7 linked regions of the Homo sapiens genome follow. The protein of the gene in region 5 purifies or fractionates together with the protein of the main gene of each other region. This does not show direct contact. Each region holds a gene or a part of one and is shown on either strand. Other genes may lie near its edges.

Region 1 (3,957 bases), on a different chromosome or scaffold from region 5:
ATCTGGAGCTGGGACCACACACAGCACTTGGGCGCAAGGCTGAAATGGGACCTTTCCTTTTCCCTTAAGCCCCAGTCCTCTGCCAGTTGGCTTCCAGGGTCAGCTCAGTGGGAACACCTACACTACCCAGGTTGTATGGGAGGATGGCCAGGTCACACCCCTGCATGACAGCCCTGCCAGTACTCACACTGTTTCCCTCTTCACATACCCTTCCCTTCCTGACCTACCTGCTAAGTTCTACCTCCTCCCCAGGAAGCTTTTCTGGTGTATTCCTTTCCCACCCTGAGTCTCCATCTCCTACTTCCAAGCACCACATTTCTCCTGGTAGTCTTGTGGTAGTGGTATGTACGTGTGTGTGTGTGTGTGTGTGTGTGTGTCTTCCTCTAGCTGACTGAGCTCATTGAAAGGCGATGATTTTAATTTGTTCTCCATGATTTCTCCTACAGCGCCTAGTACATAATAGGCAAACAATAAGTATTGCTGAAATTGAGCAATTTAGTTTGGGTGGCCCCATTAAAGAAACCTAGCATAATACTCTTTGGGAGCTAAATTTTCCTGAATGCTTTCTGCCTGCTGCAGCTCAGCTGGAGCTCTGAGCGGGCTGAGGGCCTTCTGCTTGCTAGCTGTCCCACATTCCCCCATGACTGCCACCCTTAGAGGGCTACTCTCCTGCCCCAGCCGCTGCACTGGGAGGTGTACGGACTGCTGGGGCTTTGGCTCTTCGAAGACTGCAGCTCCCCCATGCTCTAGAAGAGTCAGAAGGCCTTGGGTTCCCCTCCTGCTTCTGCTCCTGGTTAGTCAAGGCTATCACTGCCTATTATGTGCTAGGCATTATAGGAGAAATCATGGAGAACGAATTCCTCACCTTCCAATGAGCTCAGTCGGCCAGAGGGAGGAAGACACACACACACACACAAACACACACACAGACACACACACACACAAACATGTGTGCGTACATACTACTGGGCTTCGTTAGCTTAGCTATAAAGTAGCTCGAAGTCGCATGCCAGTTTGCACCCTAAATGTGTTAACGTATTGGATTTGGATTAGGTTTGGTAGTCACAATGTTTGGCCAAGTGCTTGGAACTGGAAGTGACCATAGAGATCACTTCTCATGAGATAAAAGTAGATTGTTCCTTTTATTTTTATGTTATTTTATTTTTGAGGAGTCTTGCTCTGTCACCCAGGCTGGAGTGCTGTGGTGCAATCTCGGCTCACTGCAACCTCCATCTCCCGGATTCAAGTGATTCTCCTGCCTCAGCCTCCCAGGTAGCTGGGATTACAGGCGCCCACCACCACATTTGGCTAACTTTTGTATTTTTTGTAGATACAGGTTTTCACCATGTTGGCCAGGCTGGTCTTGAACTCCTGACCTCAAGTGATCCACCCACCTCGGCCTCCCAAAGTGCTGGGATTATAGGCTTGAGCCACCGCGCCCAGCTGTTTCTTTTGTTTTGGAGATGAAGTAATTCAAGACTCTCCCAGGTCATACACGCTGTGAATGGTACTGTTGGCACTCAATGCCAGATCCCCTGACTTGAACTCTGAGGCTATTTTTCTCACTCCACAATGGAAAATAGCCTGGAAGTGGGAGAGAAGAAACTCATTTCTTCATTTCTGGCAGCAGATCACCAGGACCTGTCGGGAGGAGGGGAGAAGGATGGTGCTCCTTTCTTCTGTCTACCATTGAGTTCCATTTCTCTGTTACTCTGAAATAGAAGGGAGCTCGGGAGCATTGATGGAGTCCAGCAGATTTCTTTGGAGGATGCTCTTTCCAGCCAAGAGGTGGAGGTCGCCTATATCTGCAGTGAGAGCTCCAGCCATGAGGACTACATCAGGTGGGTTTTCCACACAGGCAGTCCTTGCCTTACACAGCAGTGCAGTACTGCAAAAATGAGCAAGCAAGCTAAAACACCCTGCAAAGGAGTCAGAAGAGCCAGTGAGAAAATTACAATTGCTCTGTGACCAATCACAGAAGTGTCAAAACATTAAGAAATTCTTATTGCTGGTTATAAATATATAAGGAAGTGAAAAATAGTAAAATTAATATTTAGTATGTGTAATTTGAAACATTAGAAACATTCAGAATTAAAGTGTTTTATTTCTCTGTAAAAACCCATCGAGAGTAGTTTTCAACAGTAGTGGCCTCCTTCTTCTCACCAGACAGTTTAGGATGTGGAGCCGGCATCCTTGGCAAATTATCATACTCCCTTCTCAGTTTGGATCAGCTTCCAACGTTTTCTCCTTTGTGCTTTCAATGTCATAAAATAACGGTTGAGTTCCTTTAACCCTCAGGACCTGGCAGCTAACAGGGAAGTGCCAGCTGCCTTCCTCAGTCTAGCTTCCTTCTAGGTTCTTACAGCTGCTCCCACCATGCTGTTTCCCACGGGTAAGATGCTTCCTCTTTATCAGTCTAGCTCTAGAGTAGACAAAAACACCTCTCCTTGGCTTTCCTTAACCTTTTCTGGCACCAGAGTGTATTTCCTTAAGAAAAGTGATTCTGACATAAGTCCCATGCTTATAAATATTTGTACTCTGGTATCCACAGAATGAAATCTGAACTGCTGAGCACAGAATTGTAGGTCCTTCACAGTCAGGCCCCCAGCTACTTTTCCAACGTTATTATCCTCCACGGCCTGTAGTCCACTCCCCTGCCACACTGAAGTTTGCCGATTGAACAAAGCCCCACAAATGCCCAAGCCCCTGCATACGCTGCTCACAGTGAAATATACTCACATGTTGCACCTGGAAAATGTCTGCTCATACTTTGAGACCCAGTTCATAGGTCCTTAGTGAAATCTTTTCAGACTGCCTCAGGCAAAGCTAGCCGCTGTGGGTTTTGTAGCCTTTATAGCTACCATGTGGTGATAGGAAATTTATTTGTTAATGTGTCTTTATTTCTCCTCCACAGTAATTGGTAAATAGTACTTAGTTGAATAAATGAATGGTTGAATGTTCAAATTAACACATAACCAGAAAGTTGATCTGTCACAGGATAGTAGAAAACAATGTGGGATACAGTTCTTCCTCCATATCCCGTGGCACTGACTCCTACCCCCAGTCATGACACATTCACACACAGAAACTCTCATGCCTTTATAACATTCTGTTCTCTATTATGCAGAGCATTTCAGTGAAGCTTATTCGAAGTGTTCTTTCTCTGTATTTGTCTCGTTTACCAAAGGCAGTTCCTTAATGCTGGCAAGCACGTCCTTGTGGAATACCCCATGACACTGTCATTGGCGGCCGCTCAGGAACTGTGGGAGCTGGCTGAGCAGAAAGGTAATGTATCTTACCAAGAGTTTCTGCCTCCAGGATTTCTGTGATATCATCTTTATGCCTTTAAAACTTAACCCCATTTCAGATATCTCCTCCTCCTGGCTACACTGGCACTGTGGGCTCCCAACTGCCTCCTCACCCCCACACTGTAAACACAGATAGTGGAGGGCAGAAGGATGGGTGGGAATTTGCAAACTTTTGGTCAAAGCTTATCAGCTTATTTTACTCACTCTAAGGAAAAAATATGAATTAGTTTTCACCTATGCTTATGTCATGATATTATTTTGGCTTTATTCATGTGATACTTATATTGCTAAATGCTGGGATATCCTAAAAATGCTCAAATCAGAGAAACTGATTGTCTTATTTGCATAGTTTGTAGTTTTTGTTGTTTCTAAACAGGAATAACCATTTATTAAATATTTAGTATATGCTAGGAACTTGGAAACTCTGCTAAGCACTTCATATGTTATTTTGCTTAATTCTTCTAGAATCCCTTGGAGGTATATATTTTCTCTAGATGCTGTATAGAAAAATATGGCTCAAAGAAGTTAATTTGTGCCAGGTCACAAAGCTAATAACATGACTACTAAGTGGGAGGTAGAGATTTTAATCAAATCCTACAGGGCTCTTAAGTTCACATTTGTTCCCCTAAGCCATACCACCCTCCAGAAG
Region 2 (4,696 bases), on a different chromosome or scaffold from region 5:
CTCTTGAAAATCACTGATTTGTTTCCTTTACCTATAATTTTATATATTTCAGTGTTTTTTTTTTTTTTTTTTTCAGGGTCTCCCTCTGTCTCCCAGGCTGGAGAACAGTGGCACAATCAGGGCTCACTGCAGCCTCGACCTCCCAGGCTCAAGCGATCCTCCCTCCTCAGGACTCCCTCCAGCTCCCCCACCACGAAATAGCTGGGACTACAGATGAATGATGCAGTATTTTGGGGTGACGGGGTATGGGGGTGGGTGTTTGAACTCTGTCACTCAGTGTTTGTGAGATTCATTCATGATGTTGTGTATAACAGTAGTTCACCTGCATTGCTCTATCAATGTGCCATGATTTATTTATATGAATTGGTATGGATATACTACCAAGTATTTATCCATTGTATTGTCGATGGTCATCTGGGTTGTTTCCAGTTTGAGGCTTTTACAAATAATGCTGCTAGAAATATTCTTGCCCGTGCTTTTTTATGCTTATGGGTATGCATCTTCTTTATGGCTTGGTGATACCAGCGTCAGGAAGATGTGCTCCTATGTTAGTTTCCCTAAGTTTCACGCTACTATGGAAAGAGACCACCATTTCTGCTGTCCTTCCCAGCTTCTCCCCCACCTCCCCTTTTCCCTAGTTTATAAGACAGGAGAAAAGAGAGAAAGCAAAAAGTTGGAAAAAAACAGAAGTAAGATAAATAGCTAGACGACCTTGGCGCCACCACCTGGCCCTGGTGGTTAAAATAATAATAATAATATTAACCCCTGACCAAAACTACTGGCGTTATCCGTAAATTCCAGACATCGTATGAGAAAGCACTGTAAAACTTCTTGTTCTGTTAGCTGATGTATGTAGCCCCCAGTCACGTTCCTCACGCTTACTTGATCTATCATGACCCTTTCACGTAGACAGACCCCTTAGCGTTGTAAGCCCTTAAAATGGCTAGGAATTTCTTTTTCAGGGAGCTCGGCTCTTAAGACGCGAGTCTGCCGACGCTCCCGGCCGAATAAAAACCTCTTCCTTCTTTAATCCGGTGTCTGAGGAGTTTTGTCTGCGGCTCCTCCTGCTACACTACCTTTCGCACTTAGAGATACAATTGATCTGGAGTTCAGAGCTGTGTGTGATGGGAGGTAGGGGGCCAAGTTCCCTTTTTTCTTTTCCCTACGTGGATATCCCTTTGACCGAGCACCATTAACCAAAAATAGTTCCTTCCTGTGCTCTGCAGCCCCGCCTCTGAAATAAATTGTCCATACACGTGTATTTTTGTTTCTGGTCTCTATCTTATGTTCCACTGGTCTTCCTACTTTGCTTTTCTTTTTCAAGATTTTTTTCTGGCTGTTCTTGACCCTCTGAGTTTCTACATAGTCTTCAGGCCCCTATCTGGGTGCACTTCCTGGTATCCCAGCATCTGACATGTGCCTGGCGCGCAGCAGGAACTCACGGCTGGCTGTAGCCTGGATGCATCAGAGACGATGGCAAACCCTTCTCACACGTGCCAGGTTCCAGCAACCCACCCTAGCCCCGCAATTCCTCCTCGCTCACTCCCACCCCCTGCAGCGCACCCGCAAACGGCAAGGAGGCGTGCCCGCCGCGGCGCGCGTCACTTTCCCCCGGACCGACTGGCTCCGCCGCGGCTCTCCCCGCCCCCGCCTCCGCCTCCACGTCTTGGGGCCGGGCCGGAAGGCAGATCTCACCGCCTGCTTCCCTCTGCAGCGGTAGCACAAGCTCAGCGATGGCGGCTCCAGAAGGCAGCGGTCTAGGCGAGGACGCCCGGCTGGACCAGGAGACCGCCCAGTGGCTGCGCTGGGACAAGGTGAGGGGCACCAGCAGGCGGGGAGCGCCTGGAGCGGGGCCGGGTGCTCTGCCCTCTCCAGGCGCGGCGCTGCTTGCTCTGCCTGAGCTGCCTTCCCGCCCAGTGCATCCCGCTTCTCCCCCGGGAAGACCCAGGAGCGTACGGCCGCTGCTAGGCTTCCTTCGACCTGGCCGGCATGCGGCACGTTCAGAGTTAGGCCGGGAAGGCTTGTCCCCGGACGAAACCAGCCATCCGGCCGGCCGGACTGCAAGTTCGGAGTAGAGGAGCGAGCCAGGGTGGTGTAAGCGCGGCCAGACCCTGGACGCTGTCTAGTTGAGGGGCGCACGCCTTACTGTCACTCAGACCGCTGGCTCGTCGTCGGTAGTCGGCTGTGCATCCCCATGGACCCAGAATCGCTCCGTCCCGCGTATTCCTTTGGCCGCTGAGACCTTTGCAGAGCAGCGTTCTGGTCCGGTCCTCCCATCCCGAGGGCTTGGTTACAAACGTGGGTTGTCCTCCCGGGTGGGCCCGCCTGGCTTCAGGAGTCCCCCTTAGAACTTTGACTGCCAGGGAGGCACACCTGGGACACAGCACGGTTTTCTCTCTCTTCATTCCGTTTCTTAGAATCAGGAACCCAGCTCTGGACATCACTCCCTCTCCTCTCTATAAACTTGCGTCTCGCCCTTTCGACCTGTTCTGCTTGCTGTTAGGTTTTCTCGGAATGTCCCTCGCTGCTCTCCTGCTGAACTTGTTTCTCCCGTTGTGACTCATATTTTGTGCCTGAACTTAAATGTGGCTTACGTAGAGAGTCAGTCCTTCCTTGGCTCCGAAGCGTTAAATTATTTATCCCTAATATTCACTCTAAACAGTCTGTTATTTTCCTTTATAGCTCTTACTACAAATGGTAAAAACAAAAAACTCCAAAAACACTTGTTTGTAGGTTTGTTTAATGTCTGTCTCCAGGGCCGACTTCAGGGGCGAGAGACCCCTGCAGTCTCACAGGACTCGCGCTCCTTGAAGGGCCCACTGTTGTTTTAATGTCCTGCTGTCCTGTCTTGAAAGTCTTACTGGTAAAACAAGAGGTCACCCACTTTCATTGTGCACTGGACCTCCATAAATTATGTGGCCAGGCCTCTCTATTCTCACTACCTTGGTTTGTAGTGCCTGGCATAGGCATAGTGCATGACACATAGTAGGTCACTGAAATACTTGAATGAACAAAGAAGATTACAAGGTCAGTAGGGGTCAGGTCTTTGTCTTTATTTACCATTCTCTGGCCCCTACAAATAAAATGTCAGCAAATCCCATTTCCAGGATGCTATTGGCAACTCCTTGGGGGCGTTTTTCTTTTCCTGGGAAGATAACCTTGTGATTCACAAGGGAAGAAAAATGTTTCCATTTCTGATAACTTGTAGCTTGCAGAGTACAGAATTCTTTTGAAGTCAGAGTTCATAATGCACTTTCTCTAAGAAGAAGAAGAAAACAATCTAATTTCTACACAGTGTTGCATCTGTGTATAGAAAAATTGTATTTCTCTGGGTAGAGATGAGATGTCCTTTTTTTTTTTTAATCACTTCTCATGTTCTATCCTCTGTTAATTTCTTCTTTGCTTTGAGACTGGCACCTGAGAAGAAGCCCATTCATTCTCCAGTGAACCTCCCACCAGCTAAAAGCATTGCAGCCCTCTAGTCAGACTACCCCCGGCGACTGGCAAGGCGCCCTGGCAGGTGCCCTCTGTCTTTCCACCGTGCCTTCATCCCTGCTCTTTTCTCTGCTGTCAGTTTTGCTCACTGCCAGGGCTGATTCTGATCCTGCTGTACTCTTGACTTGTCATTCTTACCTGTCTGTCTCCTTTGTTTCTCTCAGGCTACTTAGTCTTTCATAGATATCAAAGACCAATTAAGATTTTCCAGACCTACACTATGAACAAGGGAGGATCACTCGATATTGAGTGTGGCAGTGAAGTCCATGTTTTCTGATTCACTCCACTAATATTTATTGAGGCTCTTTTATGAGCCTCTTTTATGTACCTGATCTGAGCCTTTCTTTGGGGCACCTGACAATCTGATAGGTAAGACTGTGTTCTGTAATTAGCATCTGCTGTTTTTCACCAAAAAAGATGGGGTTTACTTGATTCCCATTGAATCTGCCACAATCTGGAAATGTGGGCTTAATTCCAGAAAGCCAAGGTTTTATTGCAGTAGTATTTCAAAGTTTAATTAAATGGCCACGTCCTGCGTGAGTGCTCATCTAAATGGATAATGACTGTAAAACAGGAATATAAAGTCCTTCCTCTGTTGTTTTCCTGAATTCATAACTTAAAAGTCTCATATGAAACTAATGTGATTGTCATTATTTTTCTCCAACCATAACATTTTCTGCAACTACCATACAAAAAAAAAATAGGGCAATGTATAATGAACTTAAATGAATCATGTTAGCGTCTATTTGAAGCAGTTAATGTTATAGAAAAGGCACTAGATTAATGTTTATCTTGCAATTTAAGCAAGTCACCCAATCTCTGAGGCTTCCCCATCTATAAAATTGGGTTTCTGTTATTTGTCTACTTCTTGGAGATGTTACAATATTCAAACTTGACCAGGTATGTGAATGCCTGGTATGAATTATAAAACATTACAAAAGTAAGGTTTTGACTTAAGTTGTGTAATCTATCACTCTGGAAAATTTGAGGGCATTAGGGAAAAAAATGGACATTTAATCACAACTAAATGCCAGGTAGAGAAAGATATTTTACATTAATTTGAAGTAAACCACCTTAAAACCTTAAAAATCGTGTAAGGGAGGTTCTAGATTATTCCCATTTTGCAAATAGGGAAACAGAATTTGAGAACTGGAATAATCTGCGCAAGCACCTAGAGTTGGCAAGTGGTATTCTGGGATTC
Region 3 (3,957 bases), on a different chromosome or scaffold from region 5:
ATCTGTGTGGTGATCCGATCTTGCACTCCGTCACTGTGGCTGACTGCATTGTCACATTCACTTGGCGGAGGCCAATTTCCTACAGGTGCTTTCAGGATCAGGTCACTGCGATGGTCTCTAAACACCATTCTGCTTTCTCTGCTCTCTTGTCTTTAGGAGCCGGGTGTGGGCTGAGCCCTGCCTGATTGATGCTGCCAAGGAGGAGTACAACGGGGTGATAGAAGAATTTTTGGCAACAGGAGAGAAGCTTTTTGGACCTTATGTTTGGGGAAGGTGTGGTATCACATTGACTCTAGTGTCTCCTGTTAAACTGAGTCACTGGCTTCCATTCTTCCTCTTCGTGTGGCTTTTCCACCTCCTGCCTCCCAGAGCAAAGTTTCCCTGATCCCAGAAGTGAAGGAGAGGAGGAAGAGAGGAGGGTATGAGCCAGGCTTCTCACTGTTGCTGAGGAGAGGGCCTAGGAGATGAGGTTCTTTGTGTGTGTGTGTGTGTGTGTGTGTGTGTGTGTGTGTGTGTGTTTTGAGATGGAGTCTCGCTCTGTCACCCAGGCTGGAGGGCAGTGGCGTGATCTCAGCTCACTGCAACCTCCACCTCCCAGGTTCAAGCGATTCTCCTGCCTCAGCCTCCAGAGTAGCTGGGATTACAGACGCCCTCCACCACACTCAGCTAATTTTTGTATTTTTAGTAGAGACAGGGTTTCACCATGTTGGCCAGGCTGGTCTCGAACTCCTGACCTCAGGTGATCTGTCCACCTTGGTCCCAAAGTGCTGGGATTACAGGTGTGAGCCACCAGGCCCGGCAGAGAAGAGGTTCTTGAGGTGTTCAAAATGTGACCTGCAGTTGCCAAGTTTGAGATGGGGCAGCACCGTCAAGGTCCTTTGTTGACCTGTGTTTTCCCATTGCTGGAAGTTTCCCCACACTCTGTTTTTAACTTTGACATCTTCAGACTTTAGGCTCCTTAGATAAAAGGCTCCAGGTTGGTCTTTATGACCCCAAGTTGGCCTCCAGGGAACTCCATGTGATGGAGCTGATAATACATTTATCACCTCCACCCCTGCTTGGAAGGAGAGAGGGAAACAAATGCCTGGAGAGTGAGCTCCAGGAGAGCAGACACCACCTCGATGAGGGAAGTCCCAGCAAGGCAGGGGAGCCACGTGGGAGAAGCATTGAGGAGCCTGGGCTTTATTTTCCGCACTGGGCCCGAAGTCGTACTCTGCCTGTTTAGTGACTGCATCTGTTAGGGCTTGGAAATAGGCTGGAAAGGGAGGCGAGGTAGGGTCTGCTCCGGGAAGCCAGGGCCTCTTGGTGACCTCCCCGCTTCTCGGCAGGTATGACTTGCTCTTCATGCCACCGTCCTTTCCATTTGGAGGAATGGAGAACCCTTGTCTGACCTTTGTCACCCCCTGCCTGCTAGCTGGGGACCGCTCCTTGGCAGATGTCATCATCCATGAGATCTCCCACAGTTGGTTTGGGAACCTGGTCACCAACGCCAACTGGGGTGAATTCTGGCTCAATGAAGGTTTCACCATGTACGCCCAGAGGAGGATCTCCACCATCCTCTTTGGTAAAGTGCCCACCCCTCTCCTAAGGAGTCTGCCTCCCATTCTTAACCTGTGGGGCCAGTGTGATCTCCTTATGGGGTTTCAGAATACAAGTGGGTGTGAAGAGACGAGGCAGTAGTGTGTATCCAACATTTTTCTGTATGTATGAATTGTCAAACCACACATGGTTTGACAACTGACTTTTTTTTAAAAAAACATTTCCCCAGGTCATTAGTTTTTTTTTTTTTTGAGACAGAGTTTTGCTCTTGTTGCCCAGGCTGGAGTGCAATGGCACGATCTCGGCTCACTGCAACCTCCACCTCCCGGCTTCAAGCGATTCTCCTGCCTCAGCCTCCCGAGTAGCTGGGATTACAGGCATGCGCCACCACACCTGGCTAATTTTGTATTTTTAGAAGAGACGAGGTTTCTCCATGTTGGTCAGGCTGGTCTCGAACTCATGACCTCAGGTGATCCAACCTCCTCGGCCTCTCAAAGTGCCAGGATTACAGGCGTGAGCCACCATGCCCAGCCCATTAGATTTTCTTCTATAGCTGCATATATGGATGTTTTTTAATTTACTGGTTGTTTCCAATTTTCCATTGAAATATGTTGACAAATTTCCTTACACATAAATGTCTATTCATATCAGATGATTTCAACAATGATAAATTCTTAGAAACATAATTTCTGGGTCTGAACTTTTTTTTTTTTTTTTTTTTTGAGACAGAGTCTTGTTCTGTTGCCAGGCTGGAGTGCAGCGTTGCAATCTCGGCTCATTGCAACCTCCACCTCCGTAGTTCAAGCAATTCTCCTGCCTCAGCTCCCCCACATCCCACTCCCTGTAGCTGGGATTACAGGCATGCACCACCATGCCCAGCTAGTTTTTATGTTTTTAGTAGAGACAGGATTTCGGCATATTGGCCAGACTGGTCTTGAACTCCTGGCCTCAAGTGACCTGCCTGTCTAAGCCTCCCAAAGTGCTGAGACAACAGCTGTGAGCCACTGCGCCCGGCCCTGAACGTTTTAAATTACATAGTCTTTTTAGTACATATTGTCCATTATCTTCCAGAAAGTTTGTACAAATTCTGTACTTTCATTCAGAATATATATAGCAAGAGCCTGTTTGTGAATATCTTAATCAGCCATTAGGAATCCTGCAAGCAAATATTTTTATCCCATTGTACAGTTGAAGAAACTGAGGCTGAGAGAGGCTAAGCCACTTACTCAGAGTCAAAACATCTAGGAAAGGGCAGAGCTGGCTGGTTCCAAAACCCTGTGCCCCACCCCTCCACTGTTCCCTCAGTCATTGTTTTTAATGCAGAAGGAGACTTAGAGATCCTTAAAAATTTGGGGTTGATAATTTCTTTTGTCTGACAGAAACAGTTAGATGAAAATAATTCTAAGTTTTCACAGAAGATCAAGTCATTGCCAGGCATGGTGGCTCACGCCTGAGGCAGGTGGATCACCTGAGGTCAGGAGTTTGAGACCAGCCTGACCAAAATGGTGAAACCCCCGTCTCTACTAAAAATACAAAAATTAGCCAGGCATCATGGTGTGTGCCTGTAGTCCCAGCTACTTGGTAAGCTGAGATAGGAGAATTGCTTGAATCCAGGAGGTGGAGGATGCAGTGAGCCGAGATCGTGCCACTGCACTCCAGCCTGGGCAACAGAGCGAGACTCTGTCTCAAAAAAAAAAAAAAAATCAAATCATTTTCTAAAAATAAGGCCGGGGGCTGGGCGTGGTGGTTCACGCTTGTAATCCCAGCACTTTGGGAGGCCAAGGCGGGCATATCACCTGAGATCAGGAGTTTGAGCTTGGCCAACGTGGTAAAGCCCCCTCTCTACTAAAAATACAAAAATTAGCTGGGCGTGGTGGTGCACACCTGTAATCCCGGCTACTCAGGAGGCTGATGCAGAAGAATCGCTTGAACCCAGGAGGAGACGGAGGTTGCAGTGAGCCAAGATCACGCCATTGCACTCCAGCCTGGGTGACAGAGTGAGGCTTTGTCTCAAAAAATAAAATAATAAAATAAATGAAATAAGATAAAATAAAAATACAGTACTTTGATAAGGAAAGGTAACTGTCAGAAAGGTGCGATTCCCCCAGTCCTCACTTAGGAGAGAGACCAACAGCCTGAGTTAACCAAGTCCTTTGTAGCCCACAGCAACAGGGAGCTAGGGACTGAGTCAGGCTCTCTGTAACTGTCCCTATTTGCCCTGGGTCCCCAGGAGGGTAATGTTATTAAGCTTCAGGTATCTGTCGCTGTTCTTCTTGAGGCCACAAGGAGGCAGCACAGTGTCTCTGTCAGGAAAATACACTTGGATGTGGTGACAGACGTTTTCCCGAGGCTTACGTTTGATTCTGCACCAGGCGCTGCGTACACCTGCTTGGAGGCTGCAACGGGGCGGGCTCTGCT
Region 4 (3,957 bases), on a different chromosome or scaffold from region 5:
AAATACTGATACCCTTTGGCTTTTTTTTTTTCTTCTTGACACGAAGTCTCACTCTGTCACCCTGGCTGGAGTGCAGTGGCACGATCTTGGCTCACGGCAACCTCCACCTCCCAAGTTCAAGTGATTCTCCTACCTCAGCCTCCTGAGTAGCTGGGATTACAGGTGCCCGCCACCACACCTGGCTAATTTTTTTATATTTTTAGTAGAGACTGAGTTTTGCCATGTTGGCCAAGCTGGTCTCAAACTCCTGACTTCAAGTGATCCGCCCACCTTGGCCTCCCAAAGTGCTGGGATTACAGGCCTGAACCACCATGCCCGGACCACTTTGGCATTTGTAAGTGGCTTCCAGTCAGTGAGAATTCATTACCTTCTATTCACTAGGTGTTGCAACATTAAATATTACTGCAGTTACTTTTGCACCAGCCTAATAGGATGTGGAGGTCCTAGGTCCTTTTCTTTTTGGGGGACGGGAGATGGTGGGTATCAGGTAATAGTGGGGACTGACATCCAGAAGAGTTGTCTCACAAAACTCTTTCTTCTTCTCCCCGGATGCCCGTAACAATTATTTTTATTTTTTAAATTTTTTTGTTTTTTGAGGCAGGGTCTCACTCTGTCGCCCAGGCTGGAGTGCAGTGGCACGATCATGGCTCACTGCAGCCTCAATATCCTGGGTTCAGATGATCCTCCTGCCTCAGCTTCCCAACTGGCTGAGACTACAGGCTGTTATTTGTGGTGATGGGGTCTCGCTGTGTTGTCCAGGCTCCTCTCAAACTCCTGGGCTCAAAGGATCCTCCAGTCTTGACCCGTCAAAAGTGCTAGGATTACACACCTGTGTGTGAGCCACGGCACCCAGTCACACTTTTTAAAAATCTGGTGATTTCCTGAGACTGGAAGGTTCAGGTTAATGTTCTGCTTAGCTAAGAATTGAACAAAAACAGCCTTTGTTAATATCTCTTGCAAATGTATCCATTGATTTTCTTGCTTTAGATTCTGCTTTACACAGACTGCTTTTTTTTTTCTCTTTTTCTCAAGTTTGATGCCTCCCTGAACTAACCTTCATCTGAAATGAAAAAAAAGACTTTGAAGGTGGAGACATGGATATTGAATAGTGAATATGTGCCAGGGACAGGGCCATGTCCAGACAGCATTATATTTAGTCATGGTTGGTGTAAAGCTGATGAAATGCAACAGAGACAGGGATCTTTATCTGTTTAAGTCATCAGTATAGTCCAAGCCCCTAGAACAGTGTTTTGCACATAGCAAGTACTCAGTATATAGTTGCTGAAATAATTGAGTTGATAAATCGATAGTGTTTTGCCTTGGAAATTATGACTCGTCTATTTTCTGAGTAGTTCTCATTCTGGTCTTGAATTAGATTTTAGGCAGCAAAGAAGGACGACAGAGGGAGGAAACTGTAGGCAATTCTGTGGTGGGAGGTTGTGGGGAACCAGAGGAAGGAAGTTAACAATTTTTTTTTGAGACAGGGTCTTGCTCTGTCACCCAGGCTGGAGTGCAGTGGTGCAATATAGCTCATGGCAGCCTCAAACTCCTGGGCTCAAACGATCCTCCCACCTCAGCCTCCCATGTAGCTGGGACTACAGGCGTGCAACACCACACCCGGCTAATTTTTAAATTTTTTATTTGTGGAGACGAGGCCTTACTATGTTTCTCAGGCCGGTCTCTAACTCGTGGGCTCAAGCAGTCCTCCCACCTCACCTCCCAAAGTTTTGGGATTACAGCGTGAGCCACCACACCCAGCCGCAAGTTCACTATTGAACACAGTTGATGTTCTTGGCAGGCGCAATTGCAGATTAACCAAGTTCTTGTTTTACTGCCAACATGGGCAATGTGAAGTTTCTACCTGGCTAGGCAGGATTGAAGGTAACGAGGCAGGCCCTAGGAAAAATGGTGAAGCTTCTGAATTTTGCCACCTGTTATCACCAGATAACAGGCGGCCCACTGATCGGGATTCTGAACACTAGATTGATGCCAGCAGGCCCACTGATCGGGGTTCTGAACACTAGATTGGTTGGAAAAGGAAGCTCTCAGGAATGGATCATCGGTTTGGAAAGGGAGGCTGAGTTACAGGAGTCTCCTTGATGATGTATTTACTGAACAGCCTGTGAAATTTTGTTTCTTAGCTGGGTGTGGTGGCTCACGCCTGTTATCCCAGCACTTTGGGAGGCTGAAGTGGGTGGATCACTTGAGGCCAGGAGTTTGAGACCAGCCTGGTCAACATGGTGAAACCCCATCTCTCCTAAAAATTCAAAAATTGGCCAGGCGCGGTGGCTCAGGCCAGTAATCCCAGCACTTTGGGAGGCCGAGGTGGGCGGATCATGAGGTCAGTAGATCGACACCATCCTGGCTAACACGGTGAAACTCCGTCTCTACTAAAAATACATAAAAAAAAAAAAATTTATCCAGGTGTGGTAGTACACACCTGTTGTCCCAGCTACTCGGGAGGCTGAGGCAGGAGAATTGCTTGAACCCAGGAGGCAGAGGTTGCAGTGAGCCGAGATCGCACCACTGCACTTCAGCCTGATGACAGAGTGAGACCTCGTCTCAAAAAAAAAAAAAAAAAAAAATTTAAAAATTAGCTGGGCGTGGTGGCGGGCACCTGTAATCCCAGGTACTCGGGAGGCTGAAGCTGGAGAATTGCTTGAACTCAGGAGGCAGAGGTTGTGATGAACCGAGATGGCACCACTGGACTCCAGCTGGGCAACAAGAGTGAGACTCCATCTCAAAACAAAACAAAGCAAAAAAAAAAAACAAAACACCTTAGCAGGGCATAGTGGTGCGTGCCTATAATCTCAGCTACTCGGGAAGCTAAGAATCACTGGAACCTGGGAGGCAGAAGTTGCAGTGAGCTGAGATTGTGTCACTGCACACTCCAGTCTGGGCGACAGAGTGAGACTCTGTCTCAAAAAGAAAAAAAGAAACTTGTTTCTTATCCCTCATTAATGCCCACCTGGAGAACCGGGGAATCTGCCAGTGTTGTATGCTGAGGGTCTTAGCAATGTGCAACTCTGGGCAACCAGAGCCCTGAGAACTCATCTGATAATGCTCCAGTCTGGGAGGCAAACTTCCTTTGTGATCAGCTGATGTGTTTTAGGTAGGAAGGCCCCTGGGGAATTTATCTCCGCCTTTCCGTATGCCTTGTGTGCGTGTGGGGAGCCAGCAGACGCAGAAATAATTCAGAGGTATCAGAGTCACCATCACATCTATCATAGATTAGAAATAGATGCTTTATATACCTTATCTCTGACCTGCTCAAAATCTCCATAATGGAAGCATTCTTCCCTTAACTGAGCTAGGAGAAATTTGGAAACTCACCCACCTCTAGCCACTAAATGGGAGAGCTGAGAGTCAAACTCCTATCTGTCTGACTTGAGGCCTGTGCTCCCTCTAACAACCTGATGCACAGGTCAGCTAGAGCAGCAGTCCCCAGCCTTTTTGGCACCAGGAACCAGTTTTGTGGAAGACAATTTTTCCACGGACCAGCAGTGGGGTATGGTTTCAGGATGATTCAGGATTCAAGTGAATCACATTTATTTATTTATTTATTTATTTATTTATTTTTATTTTTTTGAGACAGAATTTCACTCTTGTTGCCCAGGCTGGAGTGCAATGGCATGATCTCGGCTCACTGCAGCCTCTGCCTCCTGGGTTCAAGCGATTCTCCTGCCTCAGCCTTCCAAGTAGCTGGGATTACAGGCACCCACCACCACACCTGGCTAATTTTTGTATTTTTATTAGAGACGGAGGTTTCACCATGTTGGCCAGGCTGGTCTTGAACTCCTGACCTCAGGTAATTGCCCGCCTCGGCCTCCCAAAGTGCTGCAATTACAGGCTTGCGGCACCACGCCCAGCCTGCATCACATTTATTGTGCACTTTATTTCTATTATTATTATGTTGTAATATATAATGAAATAATTATGCAACTCACCATAAACTAG
Region 5 (4,619 bases):
TGCTAGGCAAATAAAGATTTAAGAGGTAATTATCCTCCATTTGATTGTACAAGTAGGAAGCTGGTCATCCTTGACACTGCCCTCCTTCACATTCAATCCAATTTTGACTTTTCTTAAGTTTTTTTGTTGTTATTCTCTTTTTGTTTATCTGTTTTTGAGACAGAGTCTTGCCCTCTCGCCCAAGCTGGGGTGCAGTGATGTAATCACAGCTCACGGCTGCCTCCACCTGCTGGGCTCAGGTGATCCTCCCACCTCAACCTCCCAAATAGCTGGGATACAGGCACGCACCACCACACCCAGCTAATTTTTGTATTTTTTGTGGAGACAGCGTTTCACCATGTTGCCCAGGCTGATCTCAAACTCCTGGGCTCAAAAAATCTGTCTCCTCCAGCCTCCCAAAGTGCTGGAATTACAGGTGTGGCTGGCCTTTTTTGTATCTCTCTCTTTTTTTTTTTTTTTTTGAGACAAGGTCTCACTCTTGTCCAGACTAGAGTGCAATGCTGGGATTTTGGCTCACTGTAGCCACAAACTTCTGACCTCAAGCAATCCTCCCACTCCAGCCTTCCAAGTAGCTAGGCCTACAGGCACATGCCACCACACTCAGCTAATTCTGTTTATTTTTTGTAGAGATGAGGTCTCTCTATGTTGTCCAGGCTGGTCTCGAACTCCTGGGCTCTAAGTGATCCTCCTACCTTGGCCTCCCGAAGTGCTGGGATTACAAGTGTAAGCCACTGCACCTGGCCTCTTAAGTATTTATTAAATCTGTTCACTTTTCTCATATCCATTTGCCTTTTTACTAGTCCTCTTTACACCTAAAGTTTCCATCCAGTCATGAGGGGAAAGGAAGAGCACCACAGGACAGCTGGAGATTCAGGTGGGGACTGAAGTTTTACCTTTCCTCCAAAAGTCATAGGCTTTGAGTGAGAATGGGTCCCTCACAGCATCCACTTTGCTACTTTTTACCTATCTGGCTGTAAACAAGGAACTTATTAAAAAGTCATGGCAAAAATTGCAATTACTTTTGCACCAACCTAATACCTTCCATGCTTGTTTCCTCTCTGTAGAATGGGAATGAGAATATGAACTACCTCATGGGACTGCTGCGCACAGGAAATGAGTCCATCAATACATGCAAAGCACGAAGAACAGAGACAGGGACACAATAAACAATCTGCTCTTCTGATTATTGCATACTAGGGTTATAGTTTTTCAGGCTCTCGCTGCACTATGAGGCCCTTTCTTAGCATCAGCATGGCAGTGATTTTACATGTTATTTTTCAAATAGCTATCAAATTAATATTTGTCTCTTCCTCTACTGTAAATTTTATGAAGCAGATACCAAGTCTGTCTTTGCTCTTCTTAGCACAGTGCTTGGCAAAGGAAAGCACTGAAATATTTGTTAAGTAAATCTTGGAAGTAAAGCAAAGCAATAAAGCAAACCAGTGACACCAGTGGTTACCAGTCTGTAGTTTCGGATGTCTTCAGAAGTTGTATGAATGTTTCCTATCTGCTATAGTTCTTCTCCATCCTCACTAATATAAGCTTTCAAATATACCCATGTTCAGGTTCCAAAGATTCCAGTTTGACTGGGATGGGGTTGGCCAAGGCCAGTAATGAAGACTCTCTAAATAATTCTAATATGCAAGTCAGGTTGGAAAGCTCCGGTGCTGCTCCCACCAGCTTCAGTTCTGGCGTGAAGGCCTCCAACCTGACCTCTGCTTTTGAATTTGACCAACTGCCCTCACCCTTGGTTGAATTATCATTTCCTATCTACATAATAGAGGAAAAAATATGGGAAGCGGCAGCTTTACGGGCAGGACTTAGGAGGATGGAACAAACGAGTAAGGTTCGTGCTGTTCAGACAATTGTAATCCTGGCAGCAAACCTGTTGGGCGACTCCAGGCCCACGCAATCGCCAACCCACTCTCATTCAGGGCGTTCTGCCCCTAGAGGGCGAGCGCATCAGGTCATGAACCTTTTTTTTTTTCTTTTTAATGAGATTTTATCTATACTAAGAGCCAACACAGAGTTTCCTACTGTGTAAAAGAATGGTGGCTTTGATTGCCTTAAAGGCTGAACTCCGCAAGCCATCCCTTCTGGGCGTTGCTCCCCAAGGTAGATCACTGAGTCCGTTTCCTTCCCACTTGTCTCTCGCTCCACATCCGCCCACCTCTGCCCCTTTCCACGGTCCGTTTACCCCCATTCTTGAACGATTCCATCGGAATTCCCCAACCCTGTTCCAAGTGTGACCCCAAGATATGAGGCCGCCCTTCCTGAAGCCACCGCAGGCTCCTCCAGCAGGCAGCCCCGGGAGCAGGGAGCTGGGCGGCCGGGGGCCCCGCGCGCCACGGGAGGCAGAGGTCGCTCCCCGATCGCGGAAACCGGGACTCACGTGTGGATCTGCTGGAGGTCAGGGGGCCGGTAACGTTCACCTGGCCTCGGAAGGCGGGTCCCCGAGCGGGAAGCGTCTCGCGCAGCCGGGCTGCGGAGCCACCCCCTCGGCGGGCGATCCTCTCACTCCCTAACTTGGGAGCCACAAGCCGCGAGTCCACGGCGCTGGGCGAAAAGAGTCACATTCCCTCCCCACTCCCTCAAGGGAAAGGGAGCGAAACACGCTTTCCGGACCCGGCACAACAGGTCCTTCGGGCAGCCGCGAGGTTGGGAAGGCCAGGGGCGACTGGCTGCGGAAGAGGGTAGAGCATTCCACGGGCGCATTTCCTGAGGAGGGGCCTCTCCACTTACGGATCCCCTGTCACTTTATTGATCCCCAGACCCACAGCAAATCCTGAGTTTGGGCAGCAGGCATTATACCAAAGGCGCGGGTGGGAGTGGAGTTCTGGATGTGCAACACGGCACCAATCTGTTCTGTCCGAGAGCGAAGTTAGGTGGTGCAGGAAAAGAGCCTTTATGCGCGCCCCAGGACCTGACTCTCGGGGCGATCGGCGACCACTCACCTTGTGCCTGCGCCTCCATGGTGGCTGACTTCGAGCTGAGGGCGGCGGGGACACCCTGGTGCTTCCCAGAGCAGATGGCAGCTGCGCCCAGGCTCAGAACGCAGCTGGCCCCGCCGCTCGCTCCCACTCCTGGCACGCGTGTCGCGAGCGCTGCGCGGAGGGGGTTGGGGACGCAGGCAGCCGCCACTAGCCGCTTCTGGTTACCTCCGCCCCTTCCAGTCCACCTGGCCCAAACCAAGCTGGAACAAGCTCGCCGCTGGGCGCCACCTGCCGGCGCTCTGTACAGCCGGCGGAAGGCACCCACTCCCGGCGCTATAAGGGCATAACGCAGAGATATTGCAGGTTAGGTTCCAGACCCCCGCAATAAAGCGAGTATTGCAACAAAACGAGTCACACGAATTTTTCAGTTTCCTAATGCATATAAAAGTTACGTTTGCACTATGCTGTAGTCTGTTAAGTATGCAATAGCACGATGTCTAGAAAGAGCAATGTACCTACCTTAACTTAAAAAGATATTTTATTTCTAAAAAATGCTAAAGATCATCTTCACCTAATGGGAATCTTTTTGGTGGTGGAAGGCATTGCTTGGATGTTGATGGCTGCTGATTGATCCTGGTAGTGATTGCTGAAGGCTGCAATAGCTGTGTCAATTTCTTAAAATGGGACAACAATGAAGTTTGCTGCATCAATTGACTCTTCCTTTTATGAAAGATTTTTCTGTAGCATGCAATGCTGGTTGATAGCATTTTATCTACATTATAACTTTTTTCAAAATTGGAGTCAATCATCTCAAACCCTGCCATTGCTTTATCAACTAAGTTTATATAATTATAAATCTTTTGCTGTCATTTCAACAATGCTGTGAACAACTTCACCAGGAGTAGATTCCATTTCAAGTAACCATTTTCTTTGCTTGTCCATAAGAAGCAACTCCTCAACCATTCAAGTCTTATGAGATTGAGCAATTTACTCACATATTCAGGCTCCACTTCTAATTCTAGTTCTCTTGCTATTTCTACCATATCTGCAGTTACTTCCTGCTTTGAAGTCCTGAACTCCCAAAGTCATTCAGGAGGGTTGGAATCAACTTTTTCCAAACTCCTGTTAATGTTGACGTTTTGACTTCCTCCCACGAATTATAAATGTTCTTAATGGCATCTAGAATGGTGAATCTTTTCCAGAAGGTTTTCAATTTACTTTGCCCACATCCAACAGAAGAATCACTATTAATGGCAGCTATCTATTTATTTCTTAAATAATAAGGCTTGAAAGTCAAAATTACTCCTTTATCCATGGGCTACAAGATGAATGTTGTTTTGCCAGGCATGAAAACAACATTAATCTCTTCGTACATCTCCATCAACTGTTGAGTGACAAAGTATATTATTAACCAATATTAAGCAATAATATTTAGAAAGAAACATTTTTTGAGCAGTAAGTCTTAATAGTGGGCTTAAAAATATTCAATAAACCATGCTGTAAACAGATGTACTGTCATTCAAGTTTTGTTGTTCCATTTATAGAGCACAGGTGGAATATATTTAGCATAATTCTTAAGGGCTTTAAAATTTTCAGAATGGTAAATGAGCTTTGGCTTCAATGTAAAGTCACCAGCTACTTTTGCCCCTAACAAGAGAGTCAGTTTGTCCTTTGAAGCTTTGAAAC
Region 6 (3,957 bases), on a different chromosome or scaffold from region 5:
GTTCAGCACCTTCTTTCATCTAAAACCTGACGGAATCTGGTTGAACCTTCCTGTCCTGTCTTCTGGTTTCTGAGTGGATTTGACCCAGGGCAACTGAGAAGAGGCACTGCTTTATCTTTTTGCCTTCTCACTAGAGAATGAGACCCTACTGCAGTGTCCTCTCTCTTCAGTCCCTGCATCTTCCATCCACAAAACATTGTCAAGTGTGTCAGTGACTTACATCCCTAATTAACTTAATGATCTCAACGTCAGAGAAAAACACCTGTAAAACTTTTCTCTCTCCCTGATTGTAACAAAAACACAATCCCATGATAGAAAACTTGGAAAATGCAGAGGAAGTAAAAAGAAGAAAAAAAAAATCACGTATAAATTCTGTTACTTAGAGATAATCAGTGTCAATATTCTATGCATATATCATTTTATAGCCTGATTTTTTCACTGTATCAGTACACTATAAGCATATACAAGCATAATTTTAAGTGAGTATTAAATACTCCATCATGTGGTTATACCATAATTTATTTAACTGTTTCCCTAAGGATGACCTTTGGGTTATTTGCAGTAATCCTGTAATTTATTATGATGCTACCATCAAAATCTTGGTTCATGAATCCATGTCTTAGTGTTTGATAATTTTCTTCCTATTTCTGGTTGGCTTTTAGGGCTTTTGACTCATCTTGCCCTTTGTCTGCCAGAAAGTTTGCACCTTTGTATTTGAATTTGTCTGTCTTGCCACACCTGAACACCAGGTACTGTCATTTTTAAAGAAGTGCTAGTATGATAGGTAAAAAATGGTGCCTCATCACTTTAAGAAGCCATTATTTTAAAATAGAGGTTATACTTTTAATGCCCAGGCGTTTTTTTGCTCTGATCCTCATGAGAACAAGTGACGGAAGCTGGAAGTCCTGGGACCAGAACTGTGCTCTCTCCTGGTCTGTCTAGTTCTCAGACGTTCAGCAACATCACTGTTACTGGCTGTCCGCAGGTCCCCCACCCAGTCGTGGTGCCAGAGCAGACCCATGGGTGGGCTGCAGGCTCTGATTTCATTGGTGAGCTGCAGCCTTGCTGACTCACTGCTTTTCTTTCCACCTCTGACAGGAAGCTCCGTCTCCATGGGGCTCACTGACCCTTACAGAGGAGGCTTGCCTGGCTTCCCTTGTGGGAGGGTCTCAGTTTTTCTACCCTAGGTCATCTGCCTCAGAAGGGAGAGAGTGCTCGTCTCCTTCCTTTTTATTTGGGAGCGCCAGAGGTTTGTCGGCTTCAAGGCCAGGCCTGGCAGGTCACCACTAGGCGGATCATTTCAACTCCTTGTGGGGGCAGTTCTCAGGATTTCAACTAATAGCTTTTATTCCCTTCTCCGGGCAGTGATGTGGAAGCCTGAGAAACAGCTCTGGTGCCATCACGTGGTGGACATGAGCAATTGCAGCTCAGAGGTGGAACCAGACGGGAGTCAGGCTTCCAGCCTTTCTGTGCGATTCCACTGAATCCTTGCGCAGCAGCTGGACTCCAAGCTGAAGCTCTTCCCTCCCGCTACAAGCGACCCCTTAACATCTTAAGTCAGACAGGTGACAGGGATTTTGATTTCTTTTCTAGGGCTATTTAATCTCCGAGGATCAGATGTGGAGCACAATCCAGTATTTTTCTCCTACGCAATCATAGGACTAGAGACGATCATGTGAGTGTTTGCCCTGCATCTGGAACTCCCTTCCAGAGCTCCTCAGAGCCCTAGTGTGCCCTTTCTGGTCCTGGCCCACCCATCACTGCCTGATATTTCACTGATGTGCTTCTTTTTTCTTGCCCTTTTAACATTTTCCCTTCTTGTTTTCCTTAGCAGTAGGTGTTTATTTATATCCTGCCTCTCTTTGAGCCCCCAAAATGGTTTGAAACGCATGAAAGTGTCTATAGTTCGGGCCACCCATTTGATGTCAAGTTTTCTAGCAGCCAGTGTTAAGGGGTATATATGCTCAATTATACAATTCTGGGTCCACAATGCAAATAAACCCAGTCATTTTGAAGGTCAAAAATAATATGGGAAAACCCCTCCAACTACGCTTTGTTGAATTGTCAGTTTATTTTTTCAAAGCATTTCGTGTGGCCTTCTTTTCATTACTGTTCTATTTCAATAGCTTTTTGCATTAAGACAACACATTTATTAAGTGCTGGTGATGTGCTAAGGGTCTCTGTTAGGTGCTAGGGTGACTGAAACAGGACGGGGTCCTTGGCTGGAGTTGGGGAGATGAGCATGTCCTCTTTCTAAAGTATTTGGGCACATAAGTGGGCACCAGTCTGCTTGTGGGACAGATACAGGTGTTACGAGAGGGGCCTGACCTAGACTTGGAGATCAGAGCAGACTCTTGGGGAAAGTAATATTTTGAAGCAGAGAGTAAGGATAAATGTGGGTGAGTTAGGTGAATGGCAGGGTGAGGAGGGGCGGGGAACCATGATCCAAGCAGAGGGAACAGCATTTTCAGAGACTCTGGACAGTAGAGAGCACAGTGCATGTGGAGGACCTGAAGTGGTTCAGTGAGGTCAGAACATAGTGAGGCCAGAATGTGAGCAGGGGCCACAGAAAAGAGAGGCCTTGTGGGCCACATTCAGGAGCTTGGGTTCTTTTTCTGAACAAGAATAGTGGGAAGCTATTGAACGAATTTTTCAGAGGGAACCACATGTTAGATGTACAAGTTGTAAAGAATATTATGACTGAAACATCGGTAGATGGGGAAAGACTTAGAGGCTGTGGCACTAACCCAAGTGAGAGATGGTGGGACCTGAACCTGAGTGGTGACTGGGCGAGGCTGTAGATGAGCTGGACAGATTAGATGGAGATTTAGGCTGTGGGTCCCAAGGTCTTAATGAAGGACGGGAAGAGGGTCATCAGTGAAGGAGGACACTGCCCAGATTTCTGGCTTGGCAGATTGGGTGGATGGGGGCAGGGAATGCACCTTGGAGGGCAGGATTTGGGAAAGGAGTGGGGAGGAGAGAAAAGGGGCTTGGTTTTGGTTGCCAGGAAACAGAGCCTGATGTGTATGTGTGTCTGTGTTGCCACCTCTCACTCATGTTCCCTCCTTTTTCTGCCACCCACCTCTCCTCCATCTGCAGGCTCTTCATTGATGGTGACCGCATAGACGCCCCCAGTGTGAAGGAGCACCTGCTTCTTGACTTGGGTCTGGAAGCCGAATACAGGATCCAGGTGCATCCCTACAAGTCCATCCTGAGCGAGCTCAAGGCCCTGTGTGCTGACCTCTCCCCAAGGGAGAAGGTGTGGGTCAGTGACAAGGCCAGCTATGCTGTGAGCGAGACCATCCCCAAGGTTGGTGACCCCACTTTGGCCCATCTAAACTCTGCCACCCCCTTCCCAGTTCTGGTATTGTCTTTGGAGCACAGGCAGATTTCTGAGGCTGCCTGTTGGATCAGAACTGTGGTCTCCATGGATGAGGCCTTAAAGCTGGAGCCATAGCAAGAGCCTGAGGGCCCTTATTGCTTGTTGAGTCTTGTGTTTTCCAGAGTGTGGCATGAGAGATTATTTTAGGTGGTACACATTATTATTTAGGTTTGCTTAAATATATCTGTTTTAACAGCATTTAGCATATAATAGAAAAAACATAACTAGCATGAGTTCATGATATAATTATTTAAAATAAAGTTGAATTTAATAAAGCTGATTTAAAGATGGTCTAAAGTAAAGTACTAAGTGAATAAGGGTACAGCAGTTAAGAAGCTAGGGTAAAAGCTGTGCAGGTGGTATAAGAATGCTTGAAGCTTGGGAAATGCTTCTCTACCCCCTCCTTCTGCCGCACCACATTTTATAGCTAAGGACACTTGAGGCTCAGAGAGGATTGGGGAGTTGGGGATTTGGGGATTTGTCAAATTCAAGTGATAGTGATAGCCTTGCCCTTTACTGAGCCCTTGCTGGGCAGTGCTAAGCAGCTGACACTTGTTGCCTCATTTTCATTAGGG
Region 7 (4,506 bases), on a different chromosome or scaffold from region 5:
ACTCAAGCTGTCAAACACCTTTGCACGCAGCAGTGTCCCTTGGCTGGGTGTGGTGGCTCATGCCTGTAATCCCAGCACTTCGGGAGGTCAAGGTGGGAGGATCGCTTGAGTCCAGAAGTTTGAGACAAGCATGGGCAAACATGGCAAGATCTCGTCTCTAAAAAAGAATACAAAAATTAACCGATGCATGGTGGCATGTACCTATGGTCCCAGCTATTTGGGAGGCTGAAGTGTGAGGATCACTCGAGACACTGCATGCCAGACTGGGCAATAGAGCGAGACCCTGTCTCAAAAAAAAAGTGTCCCTCGTGGGTTTGGTTGCATGAGAATGCTTGGTGTTCAATTCTTGAGGTTATTAGAAGATTGAACTTTGAAATCATCCCGCAACCTTGAACCAAAAGGTGAAATTGTCCACTTTGATAGATGACAACGGAAGGATCCTTTGGTTCAATGGACAGCTTGTAAATATAAAACAGTTGCTGGAAAATTATATTAGAGATGAGCTATCTCCTCCATTACAATGTTTGCTTTTCTTTAATGCGATTGAGTTCCAACAGAAAGGCTTGGGAGGGGCCACAAGCAATGCTTCAGGAGTTACTGGAAGAGAGATATGGGGAGTGAGAGAGGAGATCCATCGATGTGGAGCAGGGGCCAGGGGAGGCCTTCTGCCCAGGAGGCCTGTGCTGAGGACCCTGGCTGTGCCCAAGGGAAACTGAATTCAGAGCTCCTCCTGCATCATAAATCCAGGACAGCTGGCAGCTCTCCAAGGAAGACTGGCGCTAAACTCCAAGGGCATCAGCCGCCAGATTGGCCAACCCCTACAATGCCCTTTGAGAGCTGAGCCCCAGGTGTGTTGAATCGGGATTCCGTTCCAACCTCATGACCACATTCATTTACAAGCCCTGCATTTTGTTAATTTAAAAATGCACTCACCAGGAGGGAAGGAGGAGAGGCTCCATTAAATATAAGACAGCTGAAAGGCTGGAATTCTTCTGACATGCATGTCTTAGGAAGGAGAAGGCCTGACCTTGTTCTTTTTTTTTTTGAGACAGGGTCTCACTCTGTCACCCAGACTGGAGTGCAGTGGTGCAATAATAACTCACTGCAGCCTCTACCTACTGGGCTCAAGTGACGTGACCTCCCACCTCAGCCTCCCCAGTAGCTGGAACTACAGGCACATGCCACCATGCCTGGGTCGCTATGTTATCGGGGCTGGTCTCCAACTTTTGTTCTCCAGCGATCCTCCCACCTCAGCCTCTCAAAGTATTGGAATACAGGTGTGAGCCACCGAGCCTGGCCAGGCCTGACTTCTGAATGCATTCGTTTCTTGATCTTTTACCCCGAGTGCACGTGCAAGTTGCACCCCTGGCCACTGGGTTTTGCAGAGTGTGGCGTTCCAGTGTCCGGGGCCCCACGCCCGTCCGCAGGCTACTGGAATGCTGAGGGCGAGGAGGCTTCGCTCCACGCACACCGGATCGGCCTGCACTTCAGGGGCCAGGTCTACAGCCTTCCCCAGCGCAGACGCCGCCGGCCCGGCCGGTTCCCGAGGGCGGGGCTGCGCGGCCTCACGCCCCGCCCACCGCGGGCAGAGGCGGGGCATGGGTCACGTGACGGCACGCCGACCAGCGAGGCCCCGCCCGGCGGGAGGAGGCCCGGCCGCGACCCGGGCCGCGCGCTGAGGAGCCGCCCGGTCGCCTGCGCGCTCCCTCCGGCGGCGTCCCCAGCCCGCGGCCCCTCTGCTGCCGGCCCCCGGCTCGCCGGCTGCGGGAGTGGCCTCAAGATGGATGAAGACGGCGGCGGCGAGGGTGGTGGCGGTGAGTGTCGGAGGTGTGGTGGGCTCGCCGGCGGCCTGGGGTCGGGGGCCGGGGGCTGGGGGTCGAGGGCGCGGCGCTGGGCCGGGGTTCGCCGGAGGAGACGGGGTCGGGGGCAGCGGCAGCGGCGTCCGCTGGAGGCCTGAGGCACGCCGGGCCAGGGCCGAGGCTGGGTCTCCGGGGGCCGAGGGAGGGGGCGGGCCGGGGTCGCCGTTCGGCGCTGGCGAGGGTCTGGGTACCAGGCCGGGGCTGCCGCGGGCTGGGGTCGCCCCGGAGTCTCGGGCCGGGGTTTGGGTGTCGCTCCTCTGGGGCGGGGGACCTTGCGGGGCGACCTTCCCCGCATCTTGTCGCCAAGGGCGTTCATGCCCTCCGGAGCCCGGCGTTTCGGACGCCCCCTTTCAGCTCAGGTGGGCGGAAGCGGCTGAGCCGGTGGGAAACCGGGAGGGGAAAGTTTTGCACTGGAGGCTCCTCGAGTGTACAGGACGGGAGGGCAGGGGAAACGGTTGGAAAGCGTGACAGTCTGCTTGGCTTTGGGTCAGAAACGGTCGCTGGATTTGCTCGAACGGGGAGGGGGCCAGCTGGAGTTCAGTTCAGGGTAGACGTTTTAGGAAACGGCAGACGCGACAGATTGAGCAAAAAACTCCGTGGAGCCGAGGGTGGGAGACACGAGCTGCACCCAGCACAGAGGCAAGACCGGAGAGCCAGGTGTGCCCGGAGCCAGGTGTGCTCCCGAGTGGGTCGGGTCGATGCGCGTCGTGGCCCAGGTGGTCTGTGTCTGACGTTCGGTTTCCTCTTGCTGGAGGAATCGTGTTTGTTGGAAATTATTTAGTGGAATACAAATGACTGCTGGGTCATGCTGGGAATTAGATTTTAAAAACAGAGGAACGTGCCTCTGTATGGAGTGGGTGTTCGCTTTGGAAAGCAAAGGGTTAATGCCCGTGTTTTTACAGGAACAGCCGAAGTTGAGGTTCTCTAGACTTTTTTTTTTTTTCCTGAAGATCTCCTTTGAGCTGACAGAGAAATCATCAGAATCATCAGAACCCCATGTAATAAGGGAGCAGTTTAGAGAAATCTTAATTACAGGCTGCCGGTGCAGCTGCCTGTAAGAATCAGCAGTATTGAATGCTTCAGGATGAAGTGGTTCATCATCAAGGTGCCTTCCAGAATTCAAGTGCTGCTCAGAGGGAGATGTTTTTTTGCTGAAAGACGCGATGCAGCCAGGATGGTGGGAAGTTGGCACCCGTCATGGCATTTGGCGAGTTCAGTTCTTATAGTTGAAGCTAGGGGTAGCACTGTGGCACCGAGTGGGTGTGTTGATGGGAGCGCTGTGGAACGAAGGCGCCCAGTTGCGAACCCTCCTACAGTCAGGCTGTCTGGAGCCATGAGATCCTAAGGAATGGGTTCCCGGTGGATGTCGTGTTTCCTGCCTGTCACAATTTGGGCATAGCTGTTTTCCCTTGTTAGAAAAGAAAGACAACTGTAATATGCAGACGTTGGACATTAGCGTCAAGGCAGCTAGCTGGCTTGGCAGTTTTGTTTGTAAGGTGCTTTGGGCTCTGTGAGTAAAGAAATGTAGACTTGAAGATTAAAGCAGGAATAAAGAGGAAAAGAGGAGGCTTTAATGTGCTCCAGCAATTTGCAGGTCTTGAGTACTATAACAAAGGATGATATGAAGTATCAAAAGTCTTAAAATTGTCCTTGGGTTGTTAGTATCTCTTCTGGGAATATATCACAGGGAAGCAACCTTGAAATAAACCCCTCACGTATAAAGATGTGTATTATGCTGTTTAAAATAGCAAAAAATTGGAAACAGCAACGCCAACAGCAGGGGCATGGTGAGGTAAATTATGGGAAGTTTATTGAAGTATTTTACAACCATTAAAATAAGCAGTTTTATACATCATGGTTTAAACAACATAAACATTGGTGACATTATGGATTATTTTATTTTCTTTTTATATTTTCCAGGTTTCTGGAATAAGTGTGTATTTCAGATTGGAAAAAAACCATCAAAGACGTGAATGTTTTAAGTGTATCATTTAATTCATCTCACTGGAACATTCAACAATGAAGATTTATTTATTGATTGCCCATCAAAATGCTAGCCAGCATGTTAGGTGCTGGAAAATAACTTTTAACCTTTATTGATTTAGTTTATGACTAGCTTTCTCCCTTGCTTTGTGACAGACACTTAAAAATATTTTTGGCAATATTAGGATATTTATTTTTGAAACAGGTGAAAAGCAAAGTTTTGAAATATGAGTGATATTGTAATTATTGTATAAACTTTATGTGCTTACATTTAACTCTTGGCTGTTGTAAGTTTTGAAGTTAACATACCTCTTTACAGTTAATACCTTTTAGATTTTTAAATGCTTTAAAATTCATGTTTAAAAAAATAAAGTTGAGCTCTTTTAAAGAAAACCGTTTCAGCTGCCAGCAGATTATAAAGCATAACATTTTTTGGTATATTTTTAGAGTGTAGTACATAATGTTGAACTGTATCTGGGGGAGTCAGTTAAAGCTTGTTTAAAAGATAGGGTAAATAATCTATTCAAACAGTAGTTATGGTAGAAGCCAAAGATAATTGAAAAGGTCTTTTTTTTGTTAATGGTCAGGTTAAAAGACTTGAAAAATTGATTCCTACTTGCTATTTTTATAAGTTAATTTAGCTTTTTGTCCACTGTATTGTTCT

What was found.
Region 1: the proteins of TPD52L1 (region 5) and BLVRA purify together in Homo sapiens (co-immunoprecipitation; one large-scale study listed by IntAct). This does not show direct contact.
Region 2: the proteins of TPD52L1 (region 5) and PGM2 purify together in Homo sapiens (co-immunoprecipitation; one large-scale study listed by IntAct). This does not show direct contact.
Region 3: the proteins of TPD52L1 (region 5) and RNPEP purify together in Homo sapiens (co-immunoprecipitation; one large-scale study listed by IntAct). This does not show direct contact.
Region 4: the proteins of TPD52L1 (region 5) and GSR purify together in Homo sapiens (co-immunoprecipitation; one large-scale study listed by IntAct). This does not show direct contact.
Region 6: the proteins of TPD52L1 (region 5) and XPNPEP1 purify together in Homo sapiens (co-immunoprecipitation; one large-scale study listed by IntAct). This does not show direct contact.
Region 7: the proteins of TPD52L1 (region 5) and CYTH3 purify together in Homo sapiens (co-immunoprecipitation; one large-scale study listed by IntAct). This does not show direct contact.

Annotation. Positions count from the first base shown.
Region 1 is NC_000007.14:43,789,528-43,793,484, forward strand, and holds part of BLVRA (biliverdin reductase A), read left to right. Parts: intron 1-1,721; coding exon 1,722-1,841; intron 1,842-3,187; coding exon 3,188-3,285; intron 3,286-3,957. UniProt on the Homo sapiens protein: Reduces the gamma-methene bridge of the open tetrapyrrole, biliverdin IXalpha, to bilirubin with the concomitant oxidation of a NADH or NADPH cofactor. Does not reduce bilirubin IXbeta.
Region 2 is NC_000004.12:37,825,000-37,829,695, forward strand, and holds the start of PGM2 (phosphopentomutase), read left to right. Parts: upstream 1-1,686; 5' UTR 1,687-1,733; coding exon 1,734-1,814; intron 1,815-4,696. UniProt on the Homo sapiens protein: Catalyzes the conversion of the nucleoside breakdown products ribose-1-phosphate and deoxyribose-1-phosphate to the corresponding 5-phosphopentoses.
Region 3 is NC_000001.11:201,995,991-201,999,947, forward strand, and holds part of RNPEP (aminopeptidase B), read left to right. Parts: intron 1-156; coding exon 157-273; exon of another isoform or gene 274-419; intron 420-1,328; coding exon 1,329-1,564; intron 1,565-3,911; coding exon 3,912-3,957. UniProt on the Homo sapiens protein: Exopeptidase which selectively removes arginine and/or lysine residues from the N-terminus of several peptide substrates including Arg(0)-Leu-enkephalin, Arg(0)-Met-enkephalin and Arg(-1)-Lys(0)-somatostatin-14.
Region 4 is NC_000008.11:30,717,733-30,721,689, reverse strand, and holds part of GSR (glutathione reductase, mitochondrial isoform 1 precursor), read left to right. Parts: intron 1-3,957. UniProt on the Homo sapiens protein: Catalyzes the reduction of glutathione disulfide (GSSG) to reduced glutathione (GSH). Constitutes the major mechanism to maintain a high GSH:GSSG ratio in the cytosol.
Region 5 is NC_000006.12:125,152,306-125,156,924, reverse strand, and holds the start of TPD52L1 (tumor protein D53), read right to left. Parts: upstream 3,153-4,619; 5' UTR 2,974-3,152; coding exon 2,955-2,973; intron 2,680-2,954; exon of another isoform or gene 2,393-2,679; intron 1-2,392.
Region 6 is NC_000010.11:109,881,785-109,885,741, reverse strand, and holds part of XPNPEP1 (xaa-Pro aminopeptidase 1), read left to right. Parts: intron 1-1,593; coding exon 1,594-1,675; intron 1,676-3,099; coding exon 3,100-3,310; intron 3,311-3,957. UniProt on the Homo sapiens protein: Metalloaminopeptidase that catalyzes the removal of a penultimate prolyl residue from the N-termini of peptides, such as Arg-Pro-Pro. Contributes to the degradation of bradykinin.
Region 7 is NC_000007.14:6,269,782-6,274,287, reverse strand, and holds the start of CYTH3 (cytohesin-3), read left to right. Parts: upstream 1-1,663; 5' UTR 1,664-1,780; coding exon 1,781-1,814; intron 1,815-4,506. UniProt on the Homo sapiens protein: Promotes guanine-nucleotide exchange on ARF1 and ARF6. Promotes the activation of ARF factors through replacement of GDP with GTP. Plays a role in the epithelial polarization.